Regions from separate parts of the Homo sapiens genome. Here region 1 is linked to region 2. Evidence: fine-mapped expression QTL. A gene starts in region 2. The other region holds a variant in brackets. All regions are shown on one strand. Distances are between the middles of the regions. Region 1 has its middle 6.6 kb from the start of AMY2B. Region 2 holds the start of RNPC3 (RNA binding region (RNP1, RRM) containing 3).

Region 1 (5,390 bases), 39 kb before region 2:
CTTCTGGGAAGAAACCAGATTATAGGAGGATAAGAGTGGAAAGGGGTAGATGTTAGAAGACTTTTACAGTGGTCCAGGAAAGAGGTGAGTGGCTTGGACTAGGGCATAGACAAGGTATATTTCAGAGGTAAACAGGCAGTAGATTTATGAATAGATTAGAGCTGAAGGATGAGGAAAAATATTAAAGATATAGGTATTTGGGGATGATACCATTTTTTAACATGAGACAAAATGAGGAAGTACCAGCTTTGACGAAGGGTATCAGGAGAGCTGTGGATCTTAACTATTCCACTGTCGATCCTGATGCTGCCCTTTGGTCCTTCCGCCAGCCAATCCTGTGAACTCTGTTCATTGCAAAACTAGAAGTTCCTCATATTTTATATGAAATATCATACCTTCATGAATTTCCTAGTGGTTTTGTTTCCCATATCATCCCCTTCCACATCCAACTTAGTGTGGAAGCAACTACTTTTCCTTCCACATTAAGTTGAAACCACAACTTTATGAAGCTTACCCTCATATTCTCAAGCATAGTTAGCTCCTCTGTTGTATGAAAGCTTCTTAATTTATATGACATTAAGCTATATTTGACTTCTTTTGTAAGTATATTATAATTAACAATTTACTTGTCTGTCATTCTGGACCAAGCTTCTTGAAGTTAGACTTCATATCTAGTATTTCCAAATCCTAGTAAAATGATTGACATTGTCTTATGTGCTCAATAAATGGCTATAACATGAAAACTCTAGGTTCCAGGTATTGTGCAAAACATTGGCATAACATGGGTTATGTCCTCATTGATTTTCTAAAAATCAATGAACTCTATATTAGAAATTGTGCAATAAACTTGACTCTAATCCTAGCAAAAGTGTTGTACACATGTTGGAACTAAGGCCCAGACAGACTGGGTAAATTGTCCAGGCTCATATGGTAAGTGACAAAGACAGGATTTGATAATAAGTCTGATTGCAAGTCAACATTCTCTGTACTACACTAATGTTTCTCCTAGAATTCTAGAGTTGTGATGTCTAATATGGTAGCCACTAGAAACAATTGGCTACTAACCAGTTGAAATGTATGTGGTTTCAACAGAGATGAGTAGTAAGTGTAAAACACACTCGGATAGTGTGAAAATAAAAAGTAAAAAAATATATTTTTATGATGTTTACAGGTTGAAATAACATACTGTGATACATTAGGCTAAACAGAATTTACCATTAATATTAATTTCCCTAGTGTCTTTTGGTTTCTTTTAATGCAGTTAGTAAAATACGTTAAATTACATATATGATTTACATTCTATTTGTATTAGACAGAGCTGTTCTAGAAGTTATGTTCAGTTAGAGAAGGGATATGTCCATACACAAAAACAAACAATAAAGTGAAAGATATGAACATAGTTTTAAGAGGGTTACGATTAAGTGCTTCAGGATTTAATTGGTAGGAAAAGTTCTTTCTGACAGATGGGAATAAGGGGAGATAAAATTGACTTGAAGAATGGGTTTGACATCAATGAAAAGAGATAGGTAAAATTGCTTTTAAGTAAGAAAAACATGTAGAAGAGCAAGGAAAATGGCAAGAAGTCAATACAGTGTTTTAGAAACAAGTCAAGTGTGAGGGAGACATGACAGTTAAATTTGGAAAGGTATATTGGGGACACTCAAAATCAGGGAGAAGAAAAAAGTACTTACCTCAGAAGGTTTTTTGGTTGTTTTAAACAGGAAAGTAATAATAAAAACTTTTAATTATATCAGATGGACCAGAAAACAAAGAGATAGGAACATTAGTAAGCAGAGCAGTGACAGAAATCTGAATTAGGATTACAGCAGTAAGAATGAAAATTAGGGAAGTGTGATAGTTATATTAAAGGGCATCCAATGAATGACACTTCCCAGTATCCATACCTATATAAAGTCTCTCTCTACAAAGACTATGGAATTAGCTTGATATTTGTTTTATCCGATGGGATATCAGCAAACAAGACACAAGCAAAGTTTG[ACTGG/G]GGTTTGCAGAAGGGAGTTTGATCTCTTGGAACTCTGAGATCATACATTGTGTTGTGAGCCTACCTGGGATGAAAGATCACTTGAAGTCTAGTTGTCCCTAGTCATTCCAACAACGTGAGTTGACTCGCCAGCTAATAGTAGTTGAGTGATGTGCCAGGAAAAAACATGGTGTATATAGTCAGCCCTCCATATCCATGGGTTCCACATCGCCAGATTCAACCAACTGTGGAAGAACATATTTTTAAAGAAGGATAGTTGCATCTGTACTGAACATATAGACTTTTCTGTCATTATTCCCTAAACAATGTAACTATCTGCATAGCATTTATATTACAGTAGATATTACATCTCTAGCAATATAGAGATGATTTAAAGTATACAGGAGGATGTGCATTGGTTATATGCAAATACTATGCTATTTTATATAAGGCACTTGAGCATCTGTAGATTTTGGTATCCATGGGAGGTCCTGGAACCAATCCCCCACAGATACTGGAGAGATGACTGCAAAAGGCTTGGTACTATCTGTGGTTTCAGGCACCTGCTGGGGGTCTTGGAACATATACCCCTGGAATAGAGGGGAAATGTTTATGTAAAACAGAGAGGGGAGATATAACAGACTTGGTGGAGACTGTACAGAAAATGGTGGTTAATCAGATATAAGAGAATAGAGAATATAAAGAGTCAAATGGGGACTCTGTGATTTAAACTTTGGGTGAATATTAGAATGGCAATGTCTTTATGACTGATAGTGCAATCTAAAGGCAGATTTGGTTTAGAGAAACCGATGAATATGGGGACATATTGAATTAGAGGTACCATTTTTAAAACAAATGGGTATATAAAAACAATTAAAAAAAGATATGAAGAAAGAAGCAGAGAATTGGTAGTTTTCAACAAAGCAATGACAGTCTAAGAAATGGAACAAAAAATACTTAACTGATTTAACACAGACACTGAACAGAACAGATGCTATCCCTAAGCAACTACTATACAGAGGGCAGTGTACACTGGCTGAATTATCAGGCCTGGAGAGTTGTACCCTTGAGGGCTGACAAAATACCAAAAAAGATATTGGATGAAGTCACCAAGCTTTATAAATGATGGGGTACAGGGAGTAGGAAGGAGATAATAAAGAGGTGCCTTCAAAGTAGCAAAGGGAGTTTTATTACCCGAGATGATTTTTAAAAGCAAATAGGGAAGGAAAATTTGCAGGGAGTACAACAAACTAACTGGATACGGGTGAGTATCAGAATTTAAATAGAAGACTGACTAGATAGTGATACAGGGCTGATGGTGTAAAGAGTTGACAGAGAAGAGGGGCACCATTTGAACTTCATGCTTGACTCAAGGTTCCAAATGTGAAAACGCAATTATTAGGAGTTAAGACAAACTATAAATCCTGACTTTTCCATTTATAACCTGTGTGATGCTGGAAAATAACTTCTCTAAATGTATCTATTAACTAGAAAAAGTAATGTTTACCTCATAGAGTTATTGTGATTAAACGAATAATGCAAATAAAGCTGTTATCCCAATGTATGGATATGGTAAAAGCTCAATATGGTTGATAATGTTATTTTTGTATTGATATTTTTACCTGGTCCTATTAAAAATCCTATCAACTCATACTGTCTTTCCGCCTTCGCTCTACTAACACTTGGCCATTCTGTCTTCCCATTCTACCCTTCTTAACTTCTAATACTTTCTACTTCTCAGAAGTATTTTCATTTCCAGTAAAGGAATGGACAGAGATGAAAAAGAATCACCAATATTTTCTACCTGCAATTTTTTCCTTCCTTCCCTCACAGTATTCTTCTTGCTTATTCGCTTAGGATTTCTGGCAGATCCATGGTAGTTTTGAAATATACTTTTCAACAATGCCAGATCAATGAACTCTGTTCTTGTAATAGCAAATCAGCATTTTTCACAATGCATTTGGAATGTTGGTAAAAAAAAAGGGATAATTTGCAGATATAATTTAGGGAATTTAGCACTGCATGAAAGGTAGAGTTAGACACACATATAATAAGCTTCTACTAAGAGTCAGGCATTATCATATATTTTCTCATTTGATCTTAATTTTCACCTCAAACAAGCAATCTGAAGAGCTATATACCCCATAGGAGAAGCATTAAAACAATTAAAGTATATTTATGTCTTCTGAAATAAAAATCTGCACAAACAATTCTTAGCATCTTCGGCATCAAAAACACAAAAATAAGGATTTAAAATAGTTGTTATATCTACTTTCTGAAATAGTTATTCTAAAAGAGTTATCCTTAGAGAAGCTATTCAGTTATTAGTAATATACGGCATTATTGCCCATATTTTGTACTTCCTAGAATGCTCTACAAAGAGAAAACTTCCCTTTACTCTAAAGCTCTAACGGTTACTATCATGTGCCAAATGACATATCTTGGGAATTCCCTAAGAATATGAAATAGGACATTTGATAATATCCTGACGACAAAGCAATAGTCACTAAAGATTTATATTTGGAGTGTCAAAACATATTCTCTCTTCTCATTTGGGCTCATATAAAAAATAAAATATATCCGGTATCAAGAATTAACTCAAAATTAGCCAGTTTCTGAGGGTCTCAAAAGTATTTTTTCAATCAATATCATATATGAGGTATCTATTTTGACATCCATAATATAAATGGCATTATAGGGAAACGGCTCTAGTGTAAACTCAGTATCCCTCTTGACACATCAAGTACCATAAATTTAATCATTTAGCTCAAAGCCTACTTAAATCACACCAAAGCCTTGACTTAAATAAAATGAAAGAGCTCTATTGTTAAGCAGAAAGTAGCAACTTCCAAATAACTTGTCTTTCTAGAGCTCCCTTTCTACTTATATAACTATCAGTTATTTACAAGTTCTTTCCCCCTATCCAAAGTAGCCTCACATTTATACCAGATATTATAGTTTTTTAACATGCAAATGAATTAACATTGACAAAAAAAAAAAAAAAAAAGACAAGTTATCTATTAATGTCATTCGTAGTTCTTAGCCTAGATGCCTTATAAATATCTTTGGAAGTAATTTAAGTGTGATTAAAAATTACAACTGAAATACCTTAATGTCACATTTATGAACTTGATCAAGTTAGTTGTTTCTCTTACTAAAAAATAAAGTCTTAATTCCTCTGAGTTTTGCAATAAATTAGGTACAATTTTCTCAAAATAGTAAACCTTCAACCACCAGCCCTTCCCCCAACAGTTTTCTGTTTTTCTTTTGAAAATAAAATAAGAAAGAAAATAAACCTGAACTCAGGATAAGTTGCAATGTAAAGGTTAGAGAAAAGAAAGCACAGATAATCAAGTTTGCCTAACAGATCTCTGAAATCAGAGAAACCTTTTGAGCCAAGGCTAAGACA
Region 2 (5,390 bases):
ATCTTTCCATTCTTCACCTTGCCTCAGCTCTCATTAATATTTTTAAATATTTCCATAAAAGTAGCCCAATGACCCCTCCAAGTTAACAGATGACAAGTGAATTCATCCTATGCCTTTGCAAACATCCTCTGGATCCTCATGTCAGCTAATATAACAACCCAAATAACTCAATCCTCAATCTAAATATCCTGAACTATTCTCTCTCAACCCCTATATTATAAAACCTACAAACTCAATCTCTATTGAATATATATTTACTTCCCCCTTTGTCTTCTTACTGTCTTCTTCAGATAGTTATTCTTGCCTTGGCCATTATAACAGCCTTCCATTTGGTCTCCTACCTCTAATAATTCTGCACATCCAATCCATGATATGAACTATACCAGATATCTTTAACAGGCCTGATCATATTATGAGCCAGCTCAAAAGTATCAAGTGTCCACCTACTAAACCAAACTCAATACCTCTCTCCCAGACTCAAATCTATTTTTCAAGTTCCATTTCCATCTCAACCCTTAGCTCCTGCTCCACTTATAACTTCCAATGTCTCACAGCTTTATTTGGTGTTCTGCAAGCCCAGAAGGCCCATCTCCACTTGTTTCCTTCTGAAAAAATCCAATTAATCATTAGACTTCTAGCTAAAAGATCACCTCCTGTGAATGATTCCCTGGCATTATAAAGAAATGTATATTCTCCTTTTAACACTTGAAACATCTTACCTTGTAACAGTCACAGAGATATTTATCAATCTAAATCATTTAGAAATTGTTATTTTAATTACATACGCAGTTAGTTTTTCTTTATAGATAATCTACTAAAGGACTGGGCAAGATCTGCCAACTGACAAATCAAATGTAGTCTGTTGGGGAAACTGTTGGAATACAAACGCTTTTGCTTCTTAAAAACCACAGTTAAACATTATCTGAACCAAGATTGTATAAGAGGATCCTGTTGACAACTTTAATCGTCAAGAAAAAGTCATACCTTTATAGCTGCTTTTTCATTAGGGAATGTGGCAAAAGCTGTATGTTTCTGAAACAGAGTTAAGGTACAAATTACTTCCAATATAATTTCAGTTTCTCACAAAGAAATCTGACTTTTTACCAGTGGAGTAATGTGACATGTTAATAAAATCACGGGAAAGGATGAAAACTCAAGACCATTTAACTGATTACTAATTTCAGTCCAGTGGTTTTCAATACTTTTTGAGTCAGACTTGAGATGAAAGCTATGCAACCTCTATCATATAAAGACACACGTTTTACACATGCAAATAGTTCAAAAGACCAAAAGTTTAAAGACCTGTTCTACACAGAGGGTCACTTTTAACCAACTAAAAATTTATTTCCTTCATTTATGACAGATCTAAAGATTTTAAACTTTCCTCTATACATAACAATGCGTAGTTTAAAAACATTCACCAACAGAGAAATCGTTCTTCAAGGTGCATATTTCCTTTGTGCTTTATCTTTGTAATAATGTTCAATGGGAGAAGTCTATTTTTAAACATAAATTATACGGATTTTAAAAACCATCAGAAAAGAAACACAAATCAACAGTAAAAGAATCACTATGCTAAGGAAGAGCTCTGGTCAATGCTTATTAAAAGTTACTTTAATAATTATATCGCACATTCTAATTTTGTCTAATCTGATACACGATGACCTGATGTACTTAAATTGAGCCATATATAATTTTTTTTTTTTAATTTGCAGGCATAAGTGACATTTAAACTGATCAAAATTGGTCTTTCTTCTAATTCAGTAACTCTCAACTTGGGCTGCACATTAACATTAAAATCACCTAGGGAAACTTTAAAACCACTGAGTCTTGCACCATCGCTATTCCTATTTTAATGAAGAGAAATCTAAAATATCTTTGGATATAAAGCAAAACAAAGTAATTGTGTAAATTCCTACACAGGTACTCTTAACAGCCCTAAAAAATTGTTCCCTAAAAGATGTCATCGGGAAATTTTTATGAAAAGCCTCTTTTTCTAGTTGAAATTCTGCATTTAATTTACGCAAGTCACCAATGTAGCTTCTCCTCTATTTTAATGAACGATTTAACATTGGCTTATAAATGAAGTAGGACTTTAAAAAATCCCTTGATGCACATTTGTAAGAATACTCTTGAGTCCAGGAGAAATAACCCCAAATTCAAAAAAGTTGTGAGGCTCTCAGGATGGATCCGAAAACTCAATATAACTAAGCTAATTTCCATTCTTCTGCTTTGTCGTTCTCACTTGCCCTTTTCTGCAGTGCTATGACTAATCCAGACTCGAGCCGATTAAAACTCCACTTCGCAGAGCAGATATTTTGATAAAAAAGAGGTAGGATGGGGGAGCTCTCATCACACAAGTCCATCTTCCCCACTCGTTTCCATTTTACTCTTGTCAGCGCTCCCCCTCCCCGGTCACTTCCCAAATGCCTTCCCGGGAGACTCCGGAGGGGCGCGCCCTTACCAGTCGCCCCTTATCTGACAGGACCCGCACAGACTGAGCCCCGAAGTACTTCAGCAAGTCCTCTTTCTCCTCAGCAGTAAGCTCAGCCGGCAGGTGCCTGACCAGAAGGGTTCGGTCGCCCCGAGGCGGGGAAAGCGAGGAGGAGCTCGTGCATCCCCTTGATATCGCAAGCGGCTGCTCGGGAGCTGCCATTTTCCTTGGAGAAGCAAAAACAGAAATCGTGGGAAGAAGTCTCAGTCAAAATCGCGGCATCAACACAAGCTGGGAGAAATATTTTTTCCGCCTCGCGCTAAGGATTCTGGAAACCAGGAAATACCGAGAAAGAAAGTCACCTTCTCGCGAGAACTGCGCCACCGAAAAGCGGCAACCCTTCGAAGACTCTTCGGGGAAGGGCGCGGTGCTAATGATTTAAATTCCAGGGGTCTCCGGAAAGACTTACAAGCAAAAATTGGCCCAGAGATGTGCGAGGGTTAACACAAGTTGTCAATCAAAGAAGGAAACAGGAACCCCAGCCACTTCAGGGAAAGAAGGTTGACGCTCAAGGACAAGAGGACTCACGACTGCGCATGTGCGGGCTGGGACCGTCACAGGGCGGGGCGGGGCGCACGGCGGGGCGGGGCGCACGGCGGGGCGGGGCGCACGGCGGGGCGGGGCGCACGGCGGGGCGGGGCGCACGGCGGGGCGGGGCGCACGGCGGGGCGGGGCGCACGGCGGGGCGGGGCGCACGGCGGGGCGGGGCGCACGGCGGGGCGGGGCGCACGGCGGCGAGCGCTATCTGGAGCTGACCGTGCGGCTCTTAATCCCTGGCCTTGGGAAAGTGAATTGGCCTGAATAGCAAGGAGGAGAACTTGGGTGTGGAAATACCGGGTATGTTCTTACAGTATTTAGATGGTAAAATATAAAGCTAGCCAGTTATTCTGTCAACTCATTAGACACCATTGTAGGGAGGAGAACTCAGTTTAAGGGGCAAAACGTTGAGAGTTCAGACTTTTTTCTTGAATCAGTAGGCATTTAGCAGACGGATAGGCCCCTGCCAGGGTTCATTTCGCAGAAATGGCAGCCTCTAGGGAGAGGTAACCTAATAAATAAATTATTGCATGTGTGTGTATGTGTGTGTGTGTAGGGGTGTGTGTGTGTGTGTGTGTGTATGTGTGTGTGTGTGTAGGTGTAGGTACTTTTCTCCCTATTTTACAGCTGAGGACACTGATGTACAAAGAGGTTAAATCACACAGCTAGAAAGTGGAAGAACTAAGTTTTGACCCTTGGTGTTCTGACTGGGGGTCTACATTCTAATCCACTGTTCTGCCTAGATTCTGAATGGAGTGAGGCAGGGATCATCCCCGGAGGGTCAGGAATGTACCCCTCACCCCATACAGAGAGGGCCTTGAGGATTCTAAAGAGAGGTTTTATGCTAGATGTAGCTGCTACAGTCTGGAGAACCAGAGTTCCTCTTACAGTTCTTTTTGCCACTTAAATAAATGTTAGAGATACAGCAGTAAGCAGTATACCAGCAATCTGCTGTCATCCCGCATTGGTTGGGGAAAAGGAGAGAGACAGATATTAATGAAAACTAGAAGACAAACATGAGAAGAACCTTCCCCACACACCCACCAAAATATCAGATAGGTAGAGCCAGACCACGTAGACGCTGTAGATTTGTTAGGAGCCCTTTTTATTTGAGGAACATTTAGAAACTGACAAATTCTTTAAGTAGGTGTGTGTTGAGGGGAGAGAATCAAAGTTTAGGTATGAAAATTTCTCCGGTTGCAATGCAAAAAACAGAAGCAGAAAGACCAGTTGGACTACTGTAGAAGTCTGGAGAAAAACACTACCATAATAGTTTGGTGAAAGTGGACATGTAGAGAAGGAACTGGAATTGAGATACGTTTTAGAAGTAGTTGATAGGAACTTGCAGATGAAGAATAGTAAGCAAGGATAAATTCTGGATTTTTGGCTTAAGCTAGATATTATCCATCTGTAGATGATGATGCCATTTACTGAATGTGAGAAGATTGACCAAGTATAGCTAGGTTAGAAACTGTAGTGGGACATTGGGAATAGAGGAACATATATTAAGTTTAAGGTATCTATTCAGTATCCCTGTTTCAAGTAGGAAGTTGAATGTGTGTGTTTGGCATTCTTGGGAAAGGTTACCACGAGGTATGGCATCAACCTATATGGTATTTATATCTGAAGAATGACAAAGGGTATAGATAGAATTGTGCCCATAATGGAGTCATGGGACATGCAGATGTTGAGAAGTTGAGGCAAGGAAGAAGAAGAAGACAATCAATTCCTGCCCTCTCAATGCTTACTTTCTAAAATCAAGACAGAATAAATATGTAAATAAAGTTCTTTTCAGAGAATAATAAGTGCTTTGGAAAAAATAGGGTAGTGTTATAAACCGATTGGAGTGGTCATGCTATTTTAAACACTATCCTTCAGCGGCTTTTTTGTGTGTGTTCTTTGAAGACTTGTTTGGAGCTTCTAGCAAGGGAGCACTGCTACACGTATGCCCTTACAGAAAAATCATCCTCCTTTATGGGGGTAAGTCATCCTCCTCAGCCGAGTGGGCAGCTTTGGAAGAGACATATATGGGGCAGTTAGGAAGGAAGGGGAACCCAGCTAGTTAGCCAGATCAGCCAAATCAACTGTTGGGATCAGTTGGTGACAGGTGTCATGCAAAATGACCGTCACATCCTCCCTGTGACTCTTATGTTTAGTAAAATGTTCCAGACATAGTGCACATTCTGTAAATATCTATTCAATGAATGAATGCATGAAGGAATTCACTTTTATATTTACCACTGCCTCCTACGGTTAGGAATTACTACAGGGGCTATCAGGCAGAGTTTAATGGTCATTATCTACTGTAATTCAGGTATCATGACTGAGTGGAATAGTTACATGACAGAATTTTATTTTC

Evidence for each region. PIP is the estimated chance that this variant, and not a neighbour inherited with it, causes the effect.
Region 1: its variant is the best candidate, but not a certain one, in a credible set for the expression of RNPC3 in whole blood (TOPMed, PIP 0.89).

The regions. Positions count from the first base shown.
Region 1 is chr1:103,562,271-103,567,660 of GRCh38, reverse strand. It overlaps a transcript of AMY2B not described here. Among named protein-coding and RNA genes, the nearest start is that of AMY2B, 6.6 kb to the left of the region's middle. The variant ACTGG/G (reference allele first, on the strand shown) is at 1,999.
Region 2 is chr1:103,523,337-103,528,726 of GRCh38, reverse strand. RNPC3 (RNA binding region (RNP1, RRM) containing 3) reads right to left here and starts at 3,028. Exons shown (of 15, transcript NM_017619.4): 1 at 2,465-3,028; 2 at 985-1,032. The coding sequence starts at 2,656. It overlaps RNPC3-DT (RNPC3 divergent transcript), which reads left to right and starts at 3,219. Exons shown (of 4, transcript NR_168321.1): 1 at 3,219-3,331. It also overlaps the pseudogene RN7SKP285. RefSeq lists an enhancer at 2,577-2,816 and a silencer at 3,137-3,236.